3 linked regions of the Homo sapiens genome follow. The protein of the gene in region 3 purifies or fractionates together with the protein of the main gene of each other region. This does not show direct contact. Each region holds a gene or a part of one and is shown on either strand. Other genes may lie near its edges. The genes, in order: MAP3K7, IRAK1 and PELI3.

Region 1 (7,324 bases), on a different chromosome or scaffold from region 3:
ATCATGTATTTCTCAATGTAATTGAATTGTATTATATCAATATAATTAGAAACTGTAAAAAAAATAATAATTCAACTACAGGCCAAATATGCAGCCATTTAGTAGATACATATTTCTAAGACATTAGCTGATCTTGCATTTCTAATATTGTAACTCAGTAGTATTAGTTTGGCACATCTTAGATTCAATTCAATTCAGTCAAATTAGGTAAGGTCTCAGCCTCAGAAATCTGCCTAGGTACTTTTTAAACATCATTTAGTGTTTACCATCTAGAACTGGCTGTAGAGAATGTTGGAATAAAAGAGGGGATGGGTTGCAAGAAGTGTTACACAGGGTAGTATAGTGGAAAGTGTTCTGGACTGAAAAAGAAAATTTAGATGCTGTACTGATTCTGCCATAATATATTTTTGTAACTTTGAGGAAGTCACCACATTTTTCTGGGCCTGTGGTTACTCATGTAAACTGACTGAACAAGATCATTTAAGGTCTTTTCCAGTTCTAAAATGAAAACACATTCATGTTTTCCAGTATTTAACTGTTTTCTATAGTAAGCTTAGCAGTTCTTTAAAGACTGATCATGGTCTCCTATAGAATTCAGTTGGTGACCAACTAATCCTGGGTTGACAGGGCAAATGATATCCCATTGTACAGATATTGACAAGCAGTCATAGAGTTTGACTTGCCAGAAGCCGCATGCCTAAGTAAATGGTAAAGCTGGGAATTGAATATGAGACTTCTCACTTGTGAGTCAGTTGCCCTTTCCACTGGATTTACAGTGTCACTCAGTACTTTCTGAAGTACTCTATAACCAAACCTAATATGGGAAAGGGGAAACAAAATACTGATTTCCTTTTTAGTGTAGTTGGTCCTGAGCATTTAATGAACATTCTCATCTGTGCGTAATACTCTGAGGTACTATAAAAGATAAATAGGGCTTGGTGCGGTGGCTCACACCTGTAATCCGAGCACTTTGGAGGGCCAGTGCGGGCAGATCACTTGAAGCCAGGAGTTCAAGACCACCCTGGCCAACACGGAGAAACCCCGTCACTACTGAAAGTACAAAAATTAGCTGGGTGTGGTGGCACAGGCCTGTAATCCCAGCTACTTGAGTGGCTGAGGCATGAGAATCGTTTGAACCCAGGAGGCAGAGGTTGCAGTGAGCTGAGATCATGCCACCGCACCCTAGCCTGGACAACAGAGGGAGACTCTGTCTCAAAAAAAAAAAAAAAAAAAAGATGATAGAAGAATCCTAGGATTACCTCCTTAAAATGTCTGACTTAGTATGATATCAGACTGGAGTAAACACAGAACAGTTAACTATAGACCACAAATTTAAAACTGAATATAGTGTAAATTAAACACTTAAGCCATAATTTGAAAATAGAGTTAATCACAGAAGGTTCCATTGAGTAGGGACAAGTTTAAAACTAGGTTTTGAATAAAGTGACCATCGTGGGTTGGGAAAGTCACTAAGATGAATTTTCTTTGTAGTTGTTCCTCTGCCTAAAGCGCTGTTCCCCCATAACTTAAGATGACTGACTCCTCACCAGTCAAGTCCCACCTCAAATGTTATTAACACTTCCTTAGAGAAGCATTCCCTGAACAACCTAGATCTTTTGTCATTTCTATTATCTTTCATGGTACTTACCAGTAACTGAAATTGTGTCTCTCCTTCAGCAAAATGTAAGGCGCTTTATTCACTTTTGTAACCCCAATGCCTAGAACCTAGAAGGTTCTCTATACATATTTGTTCAATGAGTACATGAAAGTATCACAGCATAATCATAAGAATTAAATGCCCATCTTGTTCTCTTATATTACATGTGATAAAATAGGAGCTGAGTTATGCGATTTGGCTAAGGCAACACGTTAGAAATGAGATCCGAGTCTTGTTTTAATGTCGACTCTATTATAGTTAGCAGATACTTTTGTTTAGCAGGGATAAAAAATGCTGTAAAGGGCCAGATGCTATGAGTAAGCCACGTATGGTAGGTCTTTACTACAGAGTGCTAAAAAGACACTATTTACAATGGTTGCTTTTGAAAAGGGAGACCCATAATGCTGACCTCAACTATAGTGTAGGAACAAAGCTATAGTATTGGACACATAAAATTACTGCAGCATTTGTATATATTCTTCAGCTTTGTTAAGGAGACACACAAAAGTTTTGTTTTAAAAGCTAAAATATGCTACAAAGAGGAGATATAGATAGAACTTAAACAGTTATATGTACTTTGTAGGTTTAAGTTATAAATATATGGGGAATTGGTATTAGAGAAAAACCTAATTTATAGTGGTCTAAACAAACTGAGTACATAGATTTGTTAGTCACTATTTAATTATGGATACCTAAAATAATCAATACATTCTTTCATGTGAAAGTGACCACTGATTTCAGTAGAAATCTGGAATTACTATAGTTAAGAGGTAGCTACAGAGATAATTTTTGCATTGTACACGTGTAGCTTAAAAGATAGCATGAGCATATTATTTGAAATAAAAGCCTAGAAAATGGGTGAGATGTACTGTGGCAGGTATTAAAAGACTGCATGAAACATTCAGAAGAAAGTTTGAATAATCAAAGCTTTACTTTTATGTTATCAAATCCATCTTGTCAGCAGATGGCAGTTCCACTCTGCCACAGTTTATTAATAGATATTGAAGTTCTAACATAGTTGGAGGCTCCAAGTCCTAACTAATAAATGTATGATCTATGCTTGTTCTGTCTTGTTCCGCATTTCCAGCCAGAACAATGCCAGCATCACCAGGGGTCCATTCAGATAGTTCATAGAACAGGGCCAAATGAAACTGACAGCTGTAGTCACTGAACTAAAAATAACATGAATTCAGAACAATTAAAAGAATTATTTAATAATAAATTAAGAGCACAAAGGCATACATCCTTTTCCATTTAGGTTAGGTGTGTGTTTGGTTGTTTTCTTTAACATGACTTGTCTGAAGGAATGGAGTCATCTTACATCATAAAGAAATTAATTTTTAAAGGAATTTCTTTAAAAATAACACACAAACACACAAAACCTGATTTTTGTTTTTGTGCCTTTCAATAGTAGTTGCATGGAAATGTTCTATATACCATCTCATATTCTTCTGTATTTTTTATTAAGAAATTAAATTTAAATCTACTTAATTGTATGAGACTAAAGTTGTAGACCCAAAACAAAGAGGTTTCAACCATAGGGGGAGAAATGCTTATCATAAAGTAATTAATCAAAAACATTTTGATTTAGAAAACATTCATAAATTTAGAAGGAAATATTTCCAAATTGACCTCCCTTTTAAAACCAAAGTCCTTTTTGCATTCCTCTGTTTTTTACAAATGAAGGATTATGAAGAATATCTGAAATATTTATTTGTATGTCACCATTTTAGTTGGATGTGTGTGATGGGGAAATACTTGTAACTTGATATGTTCTCTTTTTTACTCTTGATGAAAATTCATCTTTGGGGAAAAAACAGTCATTTAAAATAATGTTGGGCTAGGTACGGTGGCTCACACCTGTAATCCCAACACTTTGGGAGGCCAAGGTGGGAGATTGTATGAGGCCAGGAGTTTGAGACGAGTCTGGGCAACATAGTGAGACCCTGTCTCTATAAAAAATTTTAAAAAACAAAAAACCTAATTGTTAATTACAGTGTGTCAAATAAACTGTATTATTCAGAAAAGAATACGGTTCAGAAAGCACGTTTGATTTGTGAACTTGGACTAGAAATTTGGTAGTAAATAAAAAGTGGCCTTCTTTCAGTGGTTTACAACTTGAATATTAAGTTTTTTCATTGTTTACCTCAGTTGCCAGTATGTCTCAAGAGTGGCCATCTATGCCACTTTTTTTCTGTTGATCTACCATATGTCAAGAAAAATATCAAATTTGCTTTCTGTAGTTTGTAACATTGGCTCATTCCTTATCTAATAATGTACATAATCTCCTTATGTGTTTTTAGGCTTGGCCTTTGCAGTCCAGACATACTATTATTCTACATCTGATCTTCTCCACGATTTTATGTTCTTGATTAATACAATAAGGAAATTTGTTACCAAGATATTTGCATTTGAAACATTTTCTTAGAAATATGTGATATATTTTTTAAAAATCTATACACATGTAAGATTTTCCCCAGTCAGTGGAGTGCTGTTTTACATAGCCTGAGAGGTGGAGTGCAGACAGTAATGAACTTTCTTAACCAGCGTTTCCTGTTGGAGCGGTGGTGTCCACAATTTTTTGTTTGTCTGTCTCCCACTGGTAAAACAAAACACTTTCTATTTTGTATACTCAGTTTTCAGTGTGTATGTATGAAGTCGGTATTTTTAAACAATGGGAGATGAAAGGTTTCATACTATCATTTGATCATGGCTCAAGTTGCAATAAGTACTTTCTAAATAAAACCTTTCTAAAATGTGAGAATTGACTTAATTAAAATGAGATAATATCTGTAAATCTACTTAACTAAGGTCAAGTAAACTACAATATACACAAGTGAGGGACTGATAATGGAGTCAGTATTTGACATATTGAACTTAATAAGCCTGTAGGACCCCTTAGTCTCAAAGGCAGTTTTAAATATATCTTGAGCTTGGGCAAAAAACCTGGATGGGAGAGATTTGAGAGTATGAATCCATGAGATTAGAGAACAGATTCAGAAACAAAAGGGCCAAGGACAGAACCCTGGAAAGTAGCAACATCTAAGGTTTGGACAGAGGAAGGAAGAATCAGTGAAGGAGGCTAAAATAGAACTCTTAAGCAGAGACAGGCAGAGAAGGGATTGTTGACAGCCATCTTTGGAGACTGCCATAAGCCCTTTATACACAAGCCTTCTATTAACCCAACTTCACTCTTTTCTTAAAGGAGATTAGGGCTTTTTAAAACCCCCTTCTAAACAGCTAAAATCTGATTCGAATATAATCTTTTGAAAAGTTAATTGTTGTTAGTTATCATACTTGCTGCCTTTGAGTAGCATTTTTCTCTGTACCAGGCACTGGACCAAATCCTGGCAGGCCTCTGTTTTGTTGGCACCATGAAACATACCTGAAAGCTGACTCTGATTTACTAATTACATGATCCTTGAATAGGTAACTTCAGTTCTTGGAGCCTTGGTTTTCTTCTCTCTAAGGTAGGAATAAAAAATCCTATATATTCATGGGTTTATGGTGACACTCAAACTCCATCATATTTGTAAGAAAGAGCTTTACAAGTTGTAATATATTGTTAAATATAAGGTTGCATTATCGTTATACAGATAATAAAATTGCATTTCTTTAAAATGTTATTTCTTGAAGAAAGGAATGAGAAGTATATTGGAATGCCCTGGGAAGCTTTTTTTATGCTACGTAGCACCTTCTGCCACCTCTAATTCCCATTCAGACTTCTCCCTTAGAGAGCTAATATCAGAATGGGGGGAAGGAGAGCAAAATATACCAGGAAACAACTTTATCCATTGTATATATCATCTGATTATTCTATCTTCTACTCTTATGGATATATGCTTATACTCTTTTTTGTTTAAAGCACAAAACTCCTGTCTCTGGCCAGGTGCAGTGGTTCACGCCTGTAATCCCAGCACTTTGGAAGGCCAACCCAGGCAGATCGCCTGAGCTCAGGAGTTCAAGACCAGCCTGGACAAGATGGCAAAACCCCGACTCTACTAAAAATACAAAAATTAGCTGGGTGTGGTGGCACAAGCCTGTAATCCCAGCTACTTTGGGGTGGCTGAGGCAGGAGAATCACTTCAGCCAGAGAGGCAGAGGCTGCAGTGAGCTGAGATCGCGCCACTGCACTCCAGCATGGGCAACAGAGTGAGACCCTGTCTCAAAAAAACAAACAAAACAAAACAAAACAAACTCCTGTCCTCCTGCCGGTATTTCTTACTTGTTTTTAAAAGTTAAGAAATGTAACTATTTTTCTATAAACTACTGTTTAATTATGAGTCATTCCTCTTTTCAACTCAGTAGAGAAAAGCATTTAATCTTGCCACAACAAGGATAATTTCCATGTAATACTTACCTCTTTTATGTATCTTTGTACTCAGAAATTTCAAGATTAATTCGGTTATTTCAAAATTCAGTCTTCCCCCATAAGGATTTTCCTTTTCCCTTTCTCCTGCCCAAGATGACATATGGGTGCTGTGGAAAGCTTCCACAAATAATATAAACAGCAAGGGAGAGCTCTCTGGTCTGTGTGATGGCTTCCACTGAAATATCTTGCCTTATTATCTGTTGTTAATGGATTAGCCTTGAATGCAGTGATTTTCAAACATTGAAACTACCTGGAGGGCTTGGTAAAACATGGATTGCTTGGCCTTACCGTCAGACTCTATAATTCTGGGTTGCACCCTGAGAATTTATATTTCTAATAAATATCCAGGTGATGTTGATACTGCTGAACCGGAGACCACACTTTTAGAGCCACTGGCATATGCTTTCACTGTCCTTATATCTGCTTTCCTTCTGGAACGTCTTTTTCTTTTGGCTTCTCTGACTCTCTCCTAGTTTGCCTGCTACCATATTGACTGTTCCTTCCTGTTCCTTGCCCATTCCTTCTCCTCTCTTGTGATCTAAATGTTGAACTGCTTCAAAGCTCAGTTCCTCTACTCCACTATCTCCATATTATTTTTGGTTACCTCTTCCAACTGATTGACTAGAAAAACTGACTACATGCTAATGACTCCCAAGTTTGTATCTCTTTGTCTGACTTCTCCATAGATCCTCTCACTCACGTTTCTACCTTCTTACTTGATATCTCCTCTTGGATATCCAGTAGGCATCTTAAACTTCATATGACTAAAACCAAACTCTGAGTTATTAAAAAAAAATCTGCATCATTCTTATCCCTCAGTAAACTGTTGTCCAGTCTAGGTGTTTTCCTTGATTCAGCTCTTTTCCTCTACACCTGTCCTGCCTGGATGCAGAGCATCAGCAAACCCTATTGACTCTACTTCTAAAACATTTCCCAGATCTGCCCAGTTTCTGCACTACCATTGACCTTGCCCTCGTAGCTATTGTTGCTTGTTTGGACTGCTGTAATGGCTTCCTAATGGGTCTCTATTTACATATCCTAGCTTCCCTACAATCCTTTCTTTAAGAGCTATAATGATTTTGTTTAATGTCACATACCATCCTTACTTCCTTGAATTTTTTCAGTTCCTTCACATTGCACTTAGACTGAAATTCAAACTCCTTTTTATGGTAGGTAGAGCCGTTCAGGATCCAACCTCTGCCTGTCCCTCCAGCCTTACCTTACAATCACTCTTCCCTTCCTCCACTATACACCAGCCACACCAAACACTCCCAAGTATTTCTCTAAATCATCAC
Region 2 (7,570 bases), on a different chromosome or scaffold from region 3:
CAGCTTGGGTGTCAGCCTCTCATCCAGAAGGACGTTGGAACTTGGGGAGAGAAGACAGTGGCGTCAGCCCGGTCCTAGCTCCTACACCTGCCCGGCTTAGATAAGGCTGGACTCGAGGCTGCCAGCCCGGTGCCTTGCCCACAGAAAGCGCTGGCACTGCCCTGAGCGCTCCAGCTGCCTGGGGGCCTCTGCTCATCAGTAGGGCCCATCCTTGGCCCGTTCCCACACCTGTGCGATGCCGGGGTGTTGAGGTCCCAGGCCATGCCTGATCCCCACATTGATAGGACGCGGGGCCCCCCTTGCTGCAGGCCCTGCCCCGGCAGTTCTCAAGGGCCCCTCCTCACCTCTTGATGTCTCCATGGATGAGGCTGGGGCTGTCCTGATGTAGAAACTGAATTGCCCGGGCTGTACCCAGAAGGATGTCCAGTCGCTGAGGCCAGGAGAGAGGTGGGCAGGCCTGGGTCTGGGGTGGCAAAGGGGGACAGGGGAGGTTGCTGGATGGCCGTTCCTTGATCCCAACCATCCTTCTACCTGTCACCGTGCAGCCTGGAACAGCCACTTCACTCTCTAGGCCTCAGTTTCCCCCTTCTGGAAAACGAGGAGCAAAGTCTCCGTGACCTGCACTTCTTAAGCAATGGCTGGGGACACGTTCAATAGAATCTGCTGGGCTTCGGCTCCCAGGGCTCATCCCTTTGTCCCTGGTGGTCGGGAAGTCCTTGAAGGCATTCTTCCCGCTCTCCCCAAACGCAGCATGCAGGAGGAGGCAAGGGGGCCCTCCCTCAGCTGTAGGTGGTCCAGCTGGTAGCCCCAGACCCCCTCGCCTCCGGGGCTTGCTGATGAGACCCTCCAGCTACGCTGCTTGCAAAGGGGAGAGGCCTGGGAAAGAGCTCTATAGAAAACATTGGGTCGGGCCAGGCGTGGTGGCTCACGCCTGTAATCCCAGCACTTTGGGAGGCTGAGGCGCGCAGACCACCTGGGGTCAGGAGTTCGAGACTAGCCTGGCCAATGTGGCAAAACCTCATCTCTACTAAAAATACAAAAATTAGGCAGGTGTGGTGGTGCATGCCTGTAGTCCCAGCTACTCGGGAGGCTGCGGCAGGAGGATCGCCTGAACCCGGGAGGTGGAGGTTGTGGTGAGCTGAGATCACACCACTGCACTCCAGCCTGGATGACAGAGCAAGACTCCACCTCAAAAAAAAAAAAAAAAAAAAAAAAAAAAAAATTGACCCCACCGTGGGCCAAATCCTGAGCCGGGTGCTGCTGGGGAGCTGGAAGTGCAGGCCTGGCCTGCTGGCAGGACCCACTCACACAGGCTGAAAGCCCTAGGCCCCGCGCCCGGCTCCAGCCAGGTGTCAGGAGTGCTTTGGGTCCTGGGAAGCGTGCCGGGCCAGGTGAGCCTACCTGGCAGTGGAGACGGTCCTCCAGGGAGCCGTTGGGCAGGAAGCCGTACACCAGGCAGTAGAAGCCGTTCTGAGCACAGTAGCCAGCAAAGTCCACAATGTTTGGGTGACGAAACCTGTTTGAAAAAGGGGAGCACTTTCCATCAGGCCAGACTGGGTGGGCAGCCCTGGCTGGGGCCTCAGCTCGCCCGGGCCTGCCAGGCCTCAGGTGCCCAAGGGAGCCAGGTCCTGTGGTGTGCGGTCTGAAGCCCCACGGGACCTGGTGTGGCTCCCCCTCTGGCCTCACCTGGACAGCTGCTCCACCTCGGTCAGGAAGCTCTGCTTCACTGCAGTCCACTCCAGGTCAGCGTTCTGCAGCCCCCAGGGTGCGGTGGGGGAAGGGGCAGGGAAGACGGGCAGCGTGAGGCTCTCGAAGCGAAGGCCTTCGGGCCACCAGTGCCACCTACCCGAGGCCCAGAACCACCAAGGGGCCAGGGACCCTACGCCAGAATGAGGGCTGAAGGAGTTGTGTGGGGAAGCGAGGGGGAAAGGCTGGAGAAGTGGTGAGGGTTATCTGATGGCCTTCCAGGGTCCCTGCCAGGGTGCGACACTCACCTCCTTCAGCCTCTTCACAGCATACACCGTGTTCCTCATCACCGCCCGGTACACGCACCCAAAGCCACCCTCCCCGATCTTGAGCTCCTCCGAGAAGTTGTGGGTGCCCCGGGAAATCTCACAGAGGGGCCAGCAAAACGGAAAGGGGCGGGCTCCCTGCAGGAGGGACACTGAGCTCTCTGGGCCTGGCTGTGGGAAGAGAGCCTGGATCAGGTGGGGTCCCTGTCTCTTCCCTTCTGCCCAAGGCTCCAGGCTCTCCCCACCACAGCTGCCTCCCAGCTGACCCAGCTTGGCTGACTGGGGCTCTGCGCTACATCAAAGGCTGAATTCCTTCCTCCTTGTCTCGAATCTTCCCTGGGGGGCAGGGGACACCTACCTTGGTAGAAGAAGGGGCTGGAGATGGCGGTGGAGGCCACAGGGAAGCAGGGCTTGGGACCAGGCCGAGCTCAGGCCCTGAATGGGTCTGGGAGCCTGGAAAAGCTTCATAAAGACACCAGTGAGAGGCAGGCAGAGACCAGCAGCAGGGTCTACAGCCGTGGCCGTGGTCAAGGTGGGCTCTTCTTTGGGTCCACCGAGCCTAACAACCGGGCCCTCTTACCTGGGGAGAGGAAGGTGGAGGCTGAGGATGGCAACTTCCGGGGGCTCCAGGCCTCGGCCTCGGCGGGTGCAGGGATGCTGCTGGGCCTCGGGGCAGTGGTGCCTGGGGACGGAAGCGGGGCGGGAGGGTGCCCTGGGACGCCAAGGAAGGAAAGGAAGGTTGAGGCCCGGGTGGGGGAGCCCCGTGGGGCCCGCCGGCCTCCCAGCCGTGGGGTGCCCGGAGTCCCGCGCTCACAGGCTGTGATGATGTCCCGCGCACGGAGCAGCTGCAGGTGCGTGAGGATGTGCACGAGGTCGGCCACACGGGCGTTGCGGTTGATCCAGGGCCACAGGACGCTGGCCGTGCGCTGCCCGGAGCGCTCGCACAGCCGCAGCTCGGTCTGGTCGCGCACGATCAGGGCGGCTGCGGGGCGGGGGGCGTCAGGCGTCGGCGCCAGGAGCCCGCGCGCCTCCCGCCCCCCGGCAGCCCGCCGCCACCCACCGAACTGGCACCAGTCGGCGGGCTCCAGGGCGTCCATCACTTTGTAGAAGCGGCACATGACCCAGGGCGGCACCTCGTACAAGAAGTGCTGGGCGCCGGGGGCTGCGGGCTCCCCCGGGCCCGGCCCCCCGGCCATGGCTGCCGCCGCCGGGCCGGGACCTGCCGGGGCCTCTCAGGGCCGCGGCGGGCGCGGGCCTGGGCCGGCCGGGTCCGCGGACACTGACTCACTTCCCCTTCGAGCCGGCCTCGTGCGACGCCCGGCGGGGCGGAAGGGGCGGTGCCCGGGCCCGCCGCCATCTTGCGCGCCGCGGCCGCGCGCTGGGTCACACGGGGGCGCCCCGCGCCGGGGAGGGCCCGGGTCCCGGCGGGTTCCGCGAGCGGCGATCGGCCTCCCGGGCTCGCCCGGGCGGGGCTCTGGAGGACGAACGGCGGCTCCCGGCGTTGGGGACAGAGGGCAGGGCGGAGGCCCGGGCTGCTCGGAAAGGGGCCGGGGCCGGGCCTTCCGAAAGCTCCTGGGCGGCCCTGCCGGAACCCTGCTCTCCACTGCGGCCTGCAGGGCTGTTACCAGGAGCCCTGCCTGCCCGCCCCACGTCTAGCCCCCTGCACACGGCAGCAGCCTTGAGCCATTCAGTCTCCTTAGGTGTCCTGAAATATGCCGAGAACGCTGCCCGCCACAGCCGTGAGTGTATGCGTTGCTGCTGCCCCAGCCCTCATTTGGCAAGGGTGAGCTCAGGCAGCTGTGGTGAAGGCTTCCTGAGCCCGCCGGCAGAGCTCCTGCCACCCCGTACCTGTCCCCTCCTGGGCATCGTCCTTGATTACTTGTCTGGACCGCCACCCCCGGTCCCCGCCCTGAGATGGGGAAGACCCCACAAGCAGCAACGCAGACTTACTCTTTTGTTTCTCCAGCTGGATGTCTCCTCCAGCGACAGTTCCCCTTGCCCTCTTGATCCTGACAGCGAAGGGGTTCCCCACCCCTAGCCCTACAGACTTAGGACTTTTCCTAGAAACGAGAAGTGCCCAAGGCCCACAGCTGGCCCCTGTTGGAGTCTCTTTCCTGAAGCCACCACCACTGTGGCCACTCCCAAGGAAGATGCCAACCATACCATGAAACCCATGGCTTCTCACGGGACAGACTTTACTGAGATGTACCAACTCAAGTATCTGAAATGACTGCACACCCATGCTAACCTCCACGGGGGCACTTGGTCCTACTTACACACAAAGGCCCATCAGCTCACGGAACAGGGCTGGCATACGAGATGCTCAATGCATACAAGTTGACTTTTCAACCCTGGGATCTACCTTTGAAGGCCAGGCCTTCCGAGGGTACCTTCTAGCATGTGCATGTGAAGCTGGACTCCTTTGAGCAGTTGTCTCCTCCAGCCCCTTACCAACCTGGTGAGGCTGCTCCTGAGAGCCAAGGAAGCCAGTAACAAGGGGGCCCCCTTTGGGCAAACCCCTCAGCCTGCCCTTGCCTGGTCAGAGAACCACGTTAGCAGTCAACAGAGGGCACGTGAGGGTCCTGGCCAGAATGAGACACAGGAGGAGCCACAGCCTGCGGGGGTGGGGGTGTCCAAAAGCACCACAGCACATCCAGACCTAGGGGGTGCCCCTACCATACGGGTCTGGAGCAGGGAGGTTGTGCTGCAGGCTGACTCATGCCAGGCCCTTCCCGTCACACGCTGGAGCAGTGTGCCTGGAGAGCACTGGCTTGGAAGAAGCTGAGGGGCCAGCGAGGCCAGCATATGGAGGAGGCTTCCCTTGGCCGCTCGTGGCAGGCCTGAAGGCAGCTACCTGTGTCCAGGGACAGCCAGATCCAATGAGGAAACGCAGCACCATGCTGTCATGTGAGCTGGAGGGGGACTTCTGTCTTATAATGAAAGCCCAGACCTTGAGTCACTTTCACAGAGAGATTTATCGAGAATGCTAACAGCACAGGATACAGTACTTCCCAACAAAAGGTGCAAACGCGTCACTTAGAAAGGCATGCTGAGTATTCTTTGCTTTCACATGTATTAAAAAACTTACAAAAATAAAATAAAACTGCGTGCTGCCCATCTTTTCCAATAGTAAAAGAACCTTATGAAAAAATCACTTGATTTTTACAACAAAAGACACAAACGGACATTTTTATGTAAATTTATAAGGCAAACTCTTTATATAATAAATAGGTTACAGGGATTCAGTGGGGGGGGGGTGTTTTTGAAACGTATACAGGTACATTCAGACAGGTTTACTGAAATGGTACAAATTTCCTTAATAAATTGCCTTTTGTTTTTAAATATATCAGTGCTTTCAGTCATTTGGCTATACACAAAGAACCTTTTTTCTGAACACTACAAAAAAGCAATCAATAATTTTTGTTTTTAAAACGACCTACTTATTTTCTAAAGTAATTGTCCCAAAACACAAAAACTGAAGGTGAATACGATACAGGGCTTTTAGAGACATCTCCAGCTAAGTGTGTCCCGGCCTCTCCCTGTGCCCCAAGTGCACCTCTCCCAACCTCAGACAGGTTTCCAGGCTGGAGCCAGCTCCCTTCTGCACAGGGTGGCCTGTGTTACTGGCAATGCTGTCCATAGCTCTCGGCCTCTGGGCTGGCACAGGGGAGCATGACTTCAACTCAGGAGGGGGCAGACACCCTGCCTAGCTCTTCCAGATGCTGCACCCGGCATGCAATGGTCACTACAGTCAGCACTCTCCGCCTCTCAGAGGAGGGAGGGGCTGTCAGGTGTTTTGGGAGCCCAAAACCATGCCTAATGAGGGTAATGGCTTTTCTAAGGAGATGTTTTCGCCATGGAATGGGAAGGGGTTTTCTCACATCTAAGTTTTGCTGGCGATCGGGTGACAGCCAAGAGAGTGCAAGCCCCCTCCATGGTCATTTTATTGCCCTGGGAAGGGGAGGGTGGGGAATAGAGATGTCACAGTGTTGAGCCCTGGAGGATGGGGTGGGATGTGACGGAAGTGTCTTAAACAGTAATGCCCACGGGGCACACCTTGGAGAGAGAATGCCCACCACCTGGCCTGTCCAGGAAGAGCTGCATCTGCCAACATTAGCCTGACCTGTGCCCACAGCAGAGCGTCCCAGCCTCCTGCTTGGGTGGGCCCAGCCCCATTCTCCCCAGCTCTTCAGCTCTGCACACACACATCCCCTCCTGGCTCCCCTCAAGGAAACATCAATCTTGCCTTTCCTTAAAAGCACGGGATGGTGGTAATAATCTCGGGGGGAGGGGAAGCAAAACAAGAATCCACTGGGCGGAACAAAACCTGGTTTTGCAGTGACTTGGAAAGTGGCAACACATCAGCTATTCGGCTTGCTGGCTTGGAGTGGGACTCCTGGGCTCCACTGCTTTGGGTGGCTTCTGGCTGATCTGGGCAGGGGTCATCTGTTCAGCTCTCCCCTCTCATCTCAGTCACCATCCCCCTCCCTCCGAATGCTTTTGTTTGTAAAGAAAAAGTGTCTAGAAATATTTGTCTCTGGAACAATTACTTTAAACATAGTTACAATACAGACTTCAGTTCAAACACAGAAGAGATTTACTTAGCAAAATTCCTTTCACCCACCAAAAATTACACAAATATAAGCCTCAACACCACAGTTAAGAGGACCAGTAGAGAGAACCTCATGTTTGGAACACAAAAGGAGAAATAAAAACCAAACCAAACCCAAACAGAAAAACCCCAGAAAGACAAGTAAAGGGCAAAGAAGGAAGGGGAAGGGGAGCAAACACAGCACACGTTACAGTGTCCAGATACACGGGAGCCCAGCATGGGCAAGGGCTCGGCACACATTGAGTAACAGTCCTGGTGATATTTGGTCATATATTCATTGACTACTGACTCTGGAGCGGCTGTTATTGATTGAAGCAGTGACAAATCAAACGGAAAGGAGGCCGTGGTAGCAAGGGAAGGAGCAGGCTTCAAGTTCTGCAAGCCTTTTGCACTCCACTGTCCAGCTCCCCAGAAACACTGAACCGGGTGGGCCCCGCTCCATCCGGGCAGGGCTAGAGGTCACCGGGTGAGGCTAACTCGGGCGTCGATTTCATGTCAGTCAGAAAACACGCACGTGGACGCACGCAGACACCCACCTGTTCACGGCCAAACATCAGCGGCAACGGCCTCCTCGCCTCCTCTGCCCCTATCCCAGGCTGGGTGGGAAAGAGCATCATGACCCACTGCTAACACTGAACACACGCCGGAGCTGGCCCCGGATGTGGGCCCAGAGGCTGCCCCAGCCCTGGTCCTCCGAAGGGCTCACGGGTAGCCCGGCCACTGAAAGGGCCTATGGCTGTTTTTCTTTTGGATTCAGGCCTCAGAAGAAGCAATGACAGCAGGGAGGGAAGCTTTTGGCCCTGGTGATTATAATGCTCTCTGCTTTGGAAGAACAAGTTTCTGGATTTTTTTGGTGTTTCTAATTATTAAAAAAAGATGATCAAAAAGAACTGTTACAGCTAAACTCTCTAGCAGATATTGCTCATTAAGAATTACAAAAGCAAAT
Region 3 (7,324 bases):
AAGGCAGGACTGGCTTTCCAGCCCAAGGCAAGGCCACTAATGTGGGAGGCTGCAGACCCATGGGTATGGACCCTCCTGTCAGCCCCCTTGGGGAGCAGAGTCCACACTGGCTGCATATCAGAGCTGGCTGGAGGGCACTGAAAATACACATTGACAGGCCCTCTCCAAGCCTACAGAATCACAGTCGCAGTGGGTGGGACCAGGGAATCTGTTTTTTTTTTTTGTTTTTTTTTTTTTGAGACAGAGTCTTGCTCTGTCACCCAGGCTGGAGTACAGTGGCACGATATCAGTTCACTGCAACCTCCACCTCCTGGGTTCAAGTGATTTTCCTGCCTCAGCCTCCTGAGTAGCTGGGATTACAGGCACCCACCAGCATGCCTGGCTAGTTTTTGTATTTTCAGTAGAGACAGGGTTTTATTATGTTGGCCAGGCTGGTCTTGAACTCCTGACCTCAAGTGATCTGCCTGCCTCGGTCTCCCAAAGTGCTGGGATTACAGGTGTGAGCCACTGCGCCCGGCCTCATCTGGATTTTAACAAACTCACTAGAAGATTCTGATTCAAGTGGCCTTGTCTGTATTTGGCAGCTCTTTGTCCTGTCACTTCCTGTTCCCAGACCTTCCTGGCACCCCACTGGTTGTTGAATAATGTCCTCAGCCTGGAGTTCAGAGCCCTCCCACCAGTGTCATCTCCCCCACATACTTCACCACCAAAGCCACCATTCCCTGATCTCATCAGACCCTGCCAGCCTTGGGCCCTTTGCTTAGGGTGAGCCTCCATCTAGAGGGGCTTCTGGAGTCAGAGAGACTGGGCTCAAATCTGGACATTTTCACCTACTAGCCAGAGGCAAGTCACATTACCTCCCTGAGCCTTGATTTCTCTCATTTGTAAGATGGGCAGAAAGCCACTTGCCTGGCAGGCCACTGCACAGATTCCATTAGGTGATTGATAACATGAAGGCCAGGAACACAGAGGCAGCAGCCCATGGCAGCGATGAGAGCTATGCCTCACCTCCTCTGTGCCTCTCACAGCCATGCCCTCCAGACAAGAGCTGGAAAGGCAGGTGGAAATTTGACATGTATGGACATATGGAGGTACTGGCATTGTGTGTCATTTTTTCCTTCCATTTTGGTTTTGAGTAGTGGTGTGATAAGTGACAGCTTACTACAGGTGAACCCTTTCTAGTTCTTCAAAACCCAGTAGAGGTGTTCCCTCTCCCAGAAACCTGATCCTAGGGCGAGAATTCCCTTTTCTTCCTCTAGGCTTATGGCATCCTTGGCTTGTGCCTGGGTGTGGCAGGTGGCACCTAGGTTCCTGGAGAAGCTGAGGAACCCCTCCACTGAGGGCCCACAACTGACCCGTGGTGCATCACCTCTACCGCCCCAGTGCACAGCACCCATCCAGGCATGGCTCAAGTGTCCAGGAAATACTTGGTTAACTGAATGAAAGTGCTTTTGAAACTGCTCTGACACCCCCCTCCCACTCCCCAAGGTACCAATTTGTTATTGTAGGGTCTTCTAGTTTCAGGTGCTTGTAGAGCTTGTTTATTAAGGTAGGATCTGCCTAGAAGTTGGCAGTTTCCTCCAAGTCTCATCAGGGGTTCACTTTCTCTCTTTCTCTCTCTCCTCTTGCAACCCCTTCTTCTTAACCCCCGACATCTACAGCTACAATGGTTGTCTGGCAAGTGGGGACAAGGGCCGCCGGCGAAGCCGCCTGGCACTGAGCCGCCGGTCGCACGCCAACGGGGTGAAGCCAGACGTCATGCACCACATCTCCACGCCGCTCGTCTCCAAGGCAAGCAACTGACCCATAGACCTGAGGTCCTGCCCTCCCTGCCCAAGGCCCAGGTCTTCGGCCTTCCAGGTCCTACCTGCCCACAGCCCCCACACCTTAACAGGGGAGCCCACTTTGTGTCATCACTCACTGCTTATTGGGCCATCCGAGAATGGTGATGAAAAATCCTTTGCAGTGTGCGCAGTTCTTTACAGTTTGCAAAATGTTGCCTTAACCACTGGACCTCTCTGAACCTTGGCTGCCTCTAAGATGGTGCTGCTTATTTCCATCCAATGGAAATGGAAATGGGTGGAAATGAGCTGCACCATTTTAGAGGCAGCCAAGGTTCAGAGAGTGGGAGGTGACAGTCATACTGCAATGATAAAGGAAAAACCTTTGACTTTAGAGGATTTGGGTTAGAATTCAGCCTCTGATATTTCCAGCTGTGTGCCTTTAGGCCAGTTTCTCTCTGACCTGCAGTTTCTTCAACTCTAAAATGGAACAATAACCCCATTCTTTTTATTTTTGAAACGGAATCTCGTTCTGTCACCCAGGCTGGAGTACAGTGGTGCGATCTCAGCTCACTGCAAGCTCTGCCTCCCGGGTTCAAGCCATTCTCCTGCCTCAGCCTCCCGAGTAGCTGGGACTACAGGCGTGTACCACCACACCCAGCTAATTTTTTTTTTTTTTTTTTTGTATTTTTAGTAGAGACGGGATTTCACTATGTTGGCCAGGCCAGTCTTGAACTCCTGACCTCAAGTGATCCGCCCACCTCAGCCTCCCAAAATGCTGGGATTACAGGCGTGAGCCACCGCACCCAGCCTGATAACCCCATCCTTAGGGTGACTGTAGGGCTTAAATCATGTGAAACATCTGCTGCACTGTCCACCCTCTGAGAAGGATGGAGCTGCCCCCTTCCCAGGGAGTGGCTGCTGGGCCTTGAGCTCCAGGTGCTTGCTCAAGGCATACACTTATCATGGCTGCACACCCTGGCAAGTGACTTTTTTCTCCCCACCAGGCACTGAGTAACCGTGGTCAGCACAGCATCTCGTATACACTGTCCCGGAGCCACTCGGTCATAGTGGAGTATACACATGATAGCGACACAGACATGTTCCAGGTATGCTCAGGCCTCTCCACACACCTCCTGGCCACCAGGCCTCTAGGCTCTGCAAGCATTTCAGGTGAGGCTACGGGTTGGGAGGCCATGGGAAAGCTGCTTCTCTCCAGACGAGGAAGCAGGATGTCCCGGTGTGGGCTGTTGACTGCAGAGTCACACAGCAAGTCAGTGGCTATATCAAGGATCAAATTCAAGACTCCTAGACTGTGGGAGGTCACACAGCTCAGGAGTTCAGGTGTGAGAGGCCTAGTGCCTGGGTTCAGATTTTGGCTCCATCACTTACCACTGGGTGACTTTGGGGAAGCATCACTTAAGTTCTCTGGGCCTTGGTTTACTCATCTGTAAAATGAGGCCCATAATAGTACCCACCCCACGGGAAGATTAACTTAGGCATTGCATATAAAATGTTTAGCATGGTGGCTGGCATATAGCAAATAGTTACTTAGAAGTCACTATCTGCTGCTAACATTTGAGCACCCTCTTATAATTATATCAGCAAATCAACTTGTATTTATTGAATGGGGCGATCCCTAGTGCTGTGGGGGCAACAGAGAAGGAGAAGCTGCTCCAGGCCACGGCTTCTTGGACTTGGAGACCCCACCTGGGAGCCTAGAGGGCCTATGGAGTTGGTGCTGCCCCTTCTCCAGGGCCTGGCAGCCTCCTTTTTTGGTGACCTTGCATACAGAGCAGCTGCTGGTACTCTGGGAGGGAAGGCCCATGAGAGTCCCCTATGTACATACAGTCCCTGCTTGCTCTCCCTGTCCTCACAGATTGGCCGCTCCACAGAGAACATGATTGACTTCGTGGTAACAGACACGTCCCCTGGAGGAGGGGCTGCCGAGGGCCCTTCTGCCCAGAGCACCATCTCCCGCTATGCCTGCCGCATCCTCTGTGACCGCCGGCCACCCTATACTGCCCGCATCTATGCCGCTGGCTTCGATGCCTCTAGCAACATCTTCCTTGGAGTGAGTGAGCCCCAGGAAGGGACCAACTCTTCATCTGTGAGGCAAGGGGTAGGCTTGGGAGGTGCAGCATCTTGAGGTGATGAACCAGCCCACAGTAATCCAAATGGTGGTCCTGGCAGTTAGCAACCCCACCTAACTGATGAGCAAAGTGAGGCCCAGAGAGACGCTCAAGTCATGCAGCTTCAATGCCAGTCCTCTCTGGGCCGCCTCTGAACTTGAAGGTAGCGGGGGCAGTGCCTCTGGCACATGGCCTGCTGGGGGGCCCCTGGGGGATGTGATCTGATCCCTCATGTGGTCCCAGGAGCGAGCGGCCAAATGGCGGACCCCAGATGGCCTGATGGATGGACTGACCACCAATGGAGTCCTGGTGATGCACCCGGCAGGCGGCTTCTCCGAGGACTCAGCCCCGGGTGTCTGGCGGGAGATCTCGGTCTGTGGGAATGTGTACACATTGCGGGACAGCCGCTCAGCCCAGCAGCGGGGCAAGCTGGTAGGTGGCCCGCTCCATTCCCCACCCCTATCCTTGCCAGGCCCTCACAAGCTGCCCATCCCCCTGCCCAAGCCAGGAGATGATCTCCAGTCCTTCTGCCCCAGGGAGCCCCAACAGGCTCCATATCAGGGAATCCCAGGCCCAGGGGGTTCTTAGCATGAGCCACTTGTCCCACAGACAGGCAGACAGACCAGGGTCCCCAAGCATAGCATGCATACCACTGGAGGTCCAGGGGGTGATGCGATCAAGGCACACACAGACATACTGTGCAGTCCCAGGTGGCTTCAAGGCTGCTGGCAGCTTAAAAAAAATCACACCTTCTTATGAGAGTGACACTTGGCCCATGTGTGAGCAGTTTATAGCCTAAAGGGTTGGCAGTTTGTAGCATGTCTATCACGTTCAGACAGGTTTAGCACTGTTCTCCTCTCGCAGGAGGAAAGGGTCCTTACAGTAGTTCTGACACAGGTGTTAGTGGCAGCTCCTTGTGGTACAGATCAGAGAGCTGAGGTTAGGGACCGGGAGTGAGTCCTAGAGAGAGGCAGGGGCTGTCCAAGGTCACATGGCCGTGCTCCTCAAACTGGCCATGCACTGCTCTTCTCTGGCATGAGCACATTGGCCAAGGAGATGCAAAACCTCAGAGAAAAGCCTGGCTTTTCTTTCCAGAGCGTCAACTCTGTGGGGAGGTCTGGGGAAGCATTGTTTGTTAAAACAATGCATGTGAATGTTTCACAAGCCTACTCTTCTTGAGCACTATTTGCCACGCACTGTTCTAAGTTTTTAAACTGATTGATCCATTTATTTATTTATTTATTTATTTTTTTTGAGATGGAGTCTCACTCTATCCCCCAGGCTGGAGTGCAATGGCACAATCTTGGCTCACTGCAACCTCCGCCTCCTGGGTTCAAGTGATTCGCCTGCCTCAGCCTCCCACGTAGCTGGGACTACAAGCATGAGCCACCACACCTGGCTAACTTTTTGTATTTTTAGTAGAGATGGGGTTTCACCTTGTTGGCCAGGCTGGTCTGGAACTCCTGACCTCAGGTGATGCGCTCGTCTCGGCCTCCCAAAGTGCTGGGATTACAGGCGTGAGCCACCGCACCCGGCCTGATGGATTCATTTAATCTTCACAAGAACCACTTGAGATGCCAGAAGGTGCAGTCCATCTTGAGGATGAGGAAACTGAGATGGAGAGAGGTTAAGTTACTCGACAAGGGACACAGTTAGTCAACGGTGAGGCCAGAATTCAGCCTGGGCAGCCTAGCTCCTGAGTTTTTGCTTTTAACTGTAACTACTGGGACAGCTGCTTTGGGCTAAGTACCCAGCATTCCCCGTTAGCTTTGAGCTAAGTACCCAGCATTCCTCATTAGAGGCCTTTCCTGCCTCTGTCAGGAGGAGGGCACTTCAGAAAACATCTTATTTTAGAAAAACCCTGTCTGGGTCAGACTTCCTGATTAGACAGATGGGGAAACCAAGGCCCATGCCCCGTTGGGAGGGGGGATCAGCATGTGCCTGGGATGCACCTGCCTGCCCACTTGGCCTCCTAGCCTGCCTTGCTCCTCTGCCCTGCCTGCCCTGCCCGCCAGGGTGTCCTCTCCAGGGAGGCTCTGTGGGATGGACCCGCGGCTCAGCAGGGGCCTCTTGGGCAGTAAGGCCCTTCTACTGCCTCTGGCAGGTGGAAAACGAGTCCAACGTGCTGCAGGACGGCTCTCTCATCGACCTGTGTGGGGCCACACTGCTGTGGCGCACACCGGCGGGGCTGCTGCGGGCTCCCACACTGAAGCAACTGGAGGCCCAGCGGCAGGAGGCAAATGCAGCGCGGCCCCAGTGCCCCGTGGGCCTCAGCACTCTGGCCTTCCCCAGCCCAGCCCGTGGCCGCACAGCGCCCGACAAACAGCAGCCCTGGGTCTACGTCCGCTGCGGGCACGTCCATGGCTACCACGGCTGGGGCTGCCGGCGGGAGCGGGGCCCCCAGGAGCGCGAATGTCCTCTCTGCCGCCTTGTGGGGCCTTATGTGCCTCTATGGCTTGGCCAGGAGGCCGGCCTCTGCCTGGACCCTGGGCCGCCTAGCCATGCCTTTGCACCTTGCGGCCACGTCTGCTCTGAGAAGACTGCCCGCTACTGGGCCCAGACACCACTGCCCCACGGCACCCATGCTTTCCATGCCGCCTGCCCCTTTTGCGGGGCCTGGCTTACCGGCGAGCATGGCTGCGTCCGCCTCATTTTCCAGGGCCCGCTGGATTAGGCTCCCTGGGGCCCCCTGCTGCTGTGCCCACCTGCCCACCCAGGTCCCCACCTCCTGCAGCCCAGAGGGAGCTCTGCATGTGGGACACTCCCTGCTGGCACAGCCACACCAGATGGACATGTTGGATGGGCTGTGCCCTTCCCCCCAACTGTGGCCCCCCAAGGAGGTCCCCAAGATCTCCACCCCAGTCATGCTGATGGGGCCTTCAGCACCAGCTCTGTCCTGGGTCGATGGAGGAAAGCCCAGCCCCATGGCCTTGCCCTTCCTGGGGCATCCCACATCGTGCCGCCGACACTGTGTGCCCCTGGGGGAGTGAAGGGGCCAGGGGCCTTTGACCCCCAGCTTAGGCTGGCTATGCCCTGAGCCTGCCAACCCAGTTTCAGACACTCATCCTTCATCCTTCCTGCTGCCGCCCTGGGTTCCTCTATAAACCTCGCTGCTCAGCTGCCCCCACAAGTCCCACATGCCCCGCATGCGTGCAATGCCTCCAGCCCCCAAGTGAGTGGTGGGTGGGTGGCAGGCTGGGCCTAGCACTTGCTGATAGCCACTATGGGCTCGACTCTGTGCTAAGTGGTATCTGGGGACACAGAGGCAATCAGACCTGGTTCCCCCCCTGGTGGAGTTCACAGTCTAGTGGAGGACAGACTGTTAACAAATGGCAACACGGCTTCATGCGTGCCAGGATCAGAGTACAAATCAGGCTGTGGCAGGCCTCACTGGTAATGGAAAAGTGAGGG

What was found.
Region 1: the proteins of PELI3 (region 3) and MAP3K7 purify together in Homo sapiens (affinity purification with western blotting; 3 studies listed by BioGRID and IntAct, with this or other methods). This does not show direct contact.
Region 2: the proteins of PELI3 (region 3) and IRAK1 purify together in Homo sapiens (affinity purification with western blotting; 7 studies listed by BioGRID and IntAct, with this or other methods). This does not show direct contact.

What each region holds. Positions count from the first base shown.
Region 1 is NC_000006.12:90,576,791-90,584,114, reverse strand, and holds part of MAP3K7 (mitogen-activated protein kinase kinase kinase 7), read left to right. Parts: intron 1-7,324. UniProt on the Homo sapiens protein: Serine/threonine kinase which acts as an essential component of the MAP kinase signal transduction pathway. Plays an important role in the cascades of cellular responses evoked by changes in the environment.
Region 2 is NC_000023.11:154,016,605-154,024,174, forward strand, and holds the start of IRAK1 (interleukin-1 receptor-associated kinase 1), read right to left. Parts: upstream 3,299-7,570; 5' UTR 3,209-3,298; coding exon 3,073-3,208; coding exon of another isoform or gene 2,995-3,072; coding exon 2,827-2,994; intron 2,725-2,826; coding exon 2,593-2,724; intron 2,475-2,592; coding exon 2,371-2,474; intron 2,184-2,370; coding exon 1,995-2,183; intron 1,752-1,994; coding exon 1,687-1,751; intron 1,517-1,686; coding exon 1,402-1,516; intron 464-1,401; coding exon 345-463; intron 41-344; coding exon 1-40.
Region 3 is NC_000011.10:66,469,581-66,476,904, forward strand, and holds part of PELI3 (E3 ubiquitin-protein ligase pellino homolog 3), read left to right. Parts: intron 1-1,661; coding exon 1,662-1,791; intron 1,792-2,788; coding exon 2,789-2,890; intron 2,891-3,660; coding exon 3,661-3,855; intron 3,856-3,909; exon of another isoform or gene 3,910-4,156; coding exon 4,157-4,345; intron 4,346-4,563; exon of another isoform or gene 4,564-4,645; intron 4,646-5,349; exon of another isoform or gene 5,350-5,524; intron 5,525-6,017; coding exon 6,018-6,587; 3' UTR 6,588-7,324. UniProt on the Homo sapiens protein: E3 ubiquitin ligase catalyzing the covalent attachment of ubiquitin moieties onto substrate proteins. Involved in the TLR and IL-1 signaling pathways via interaction with the complex containing IRAK kinases and TRAF6.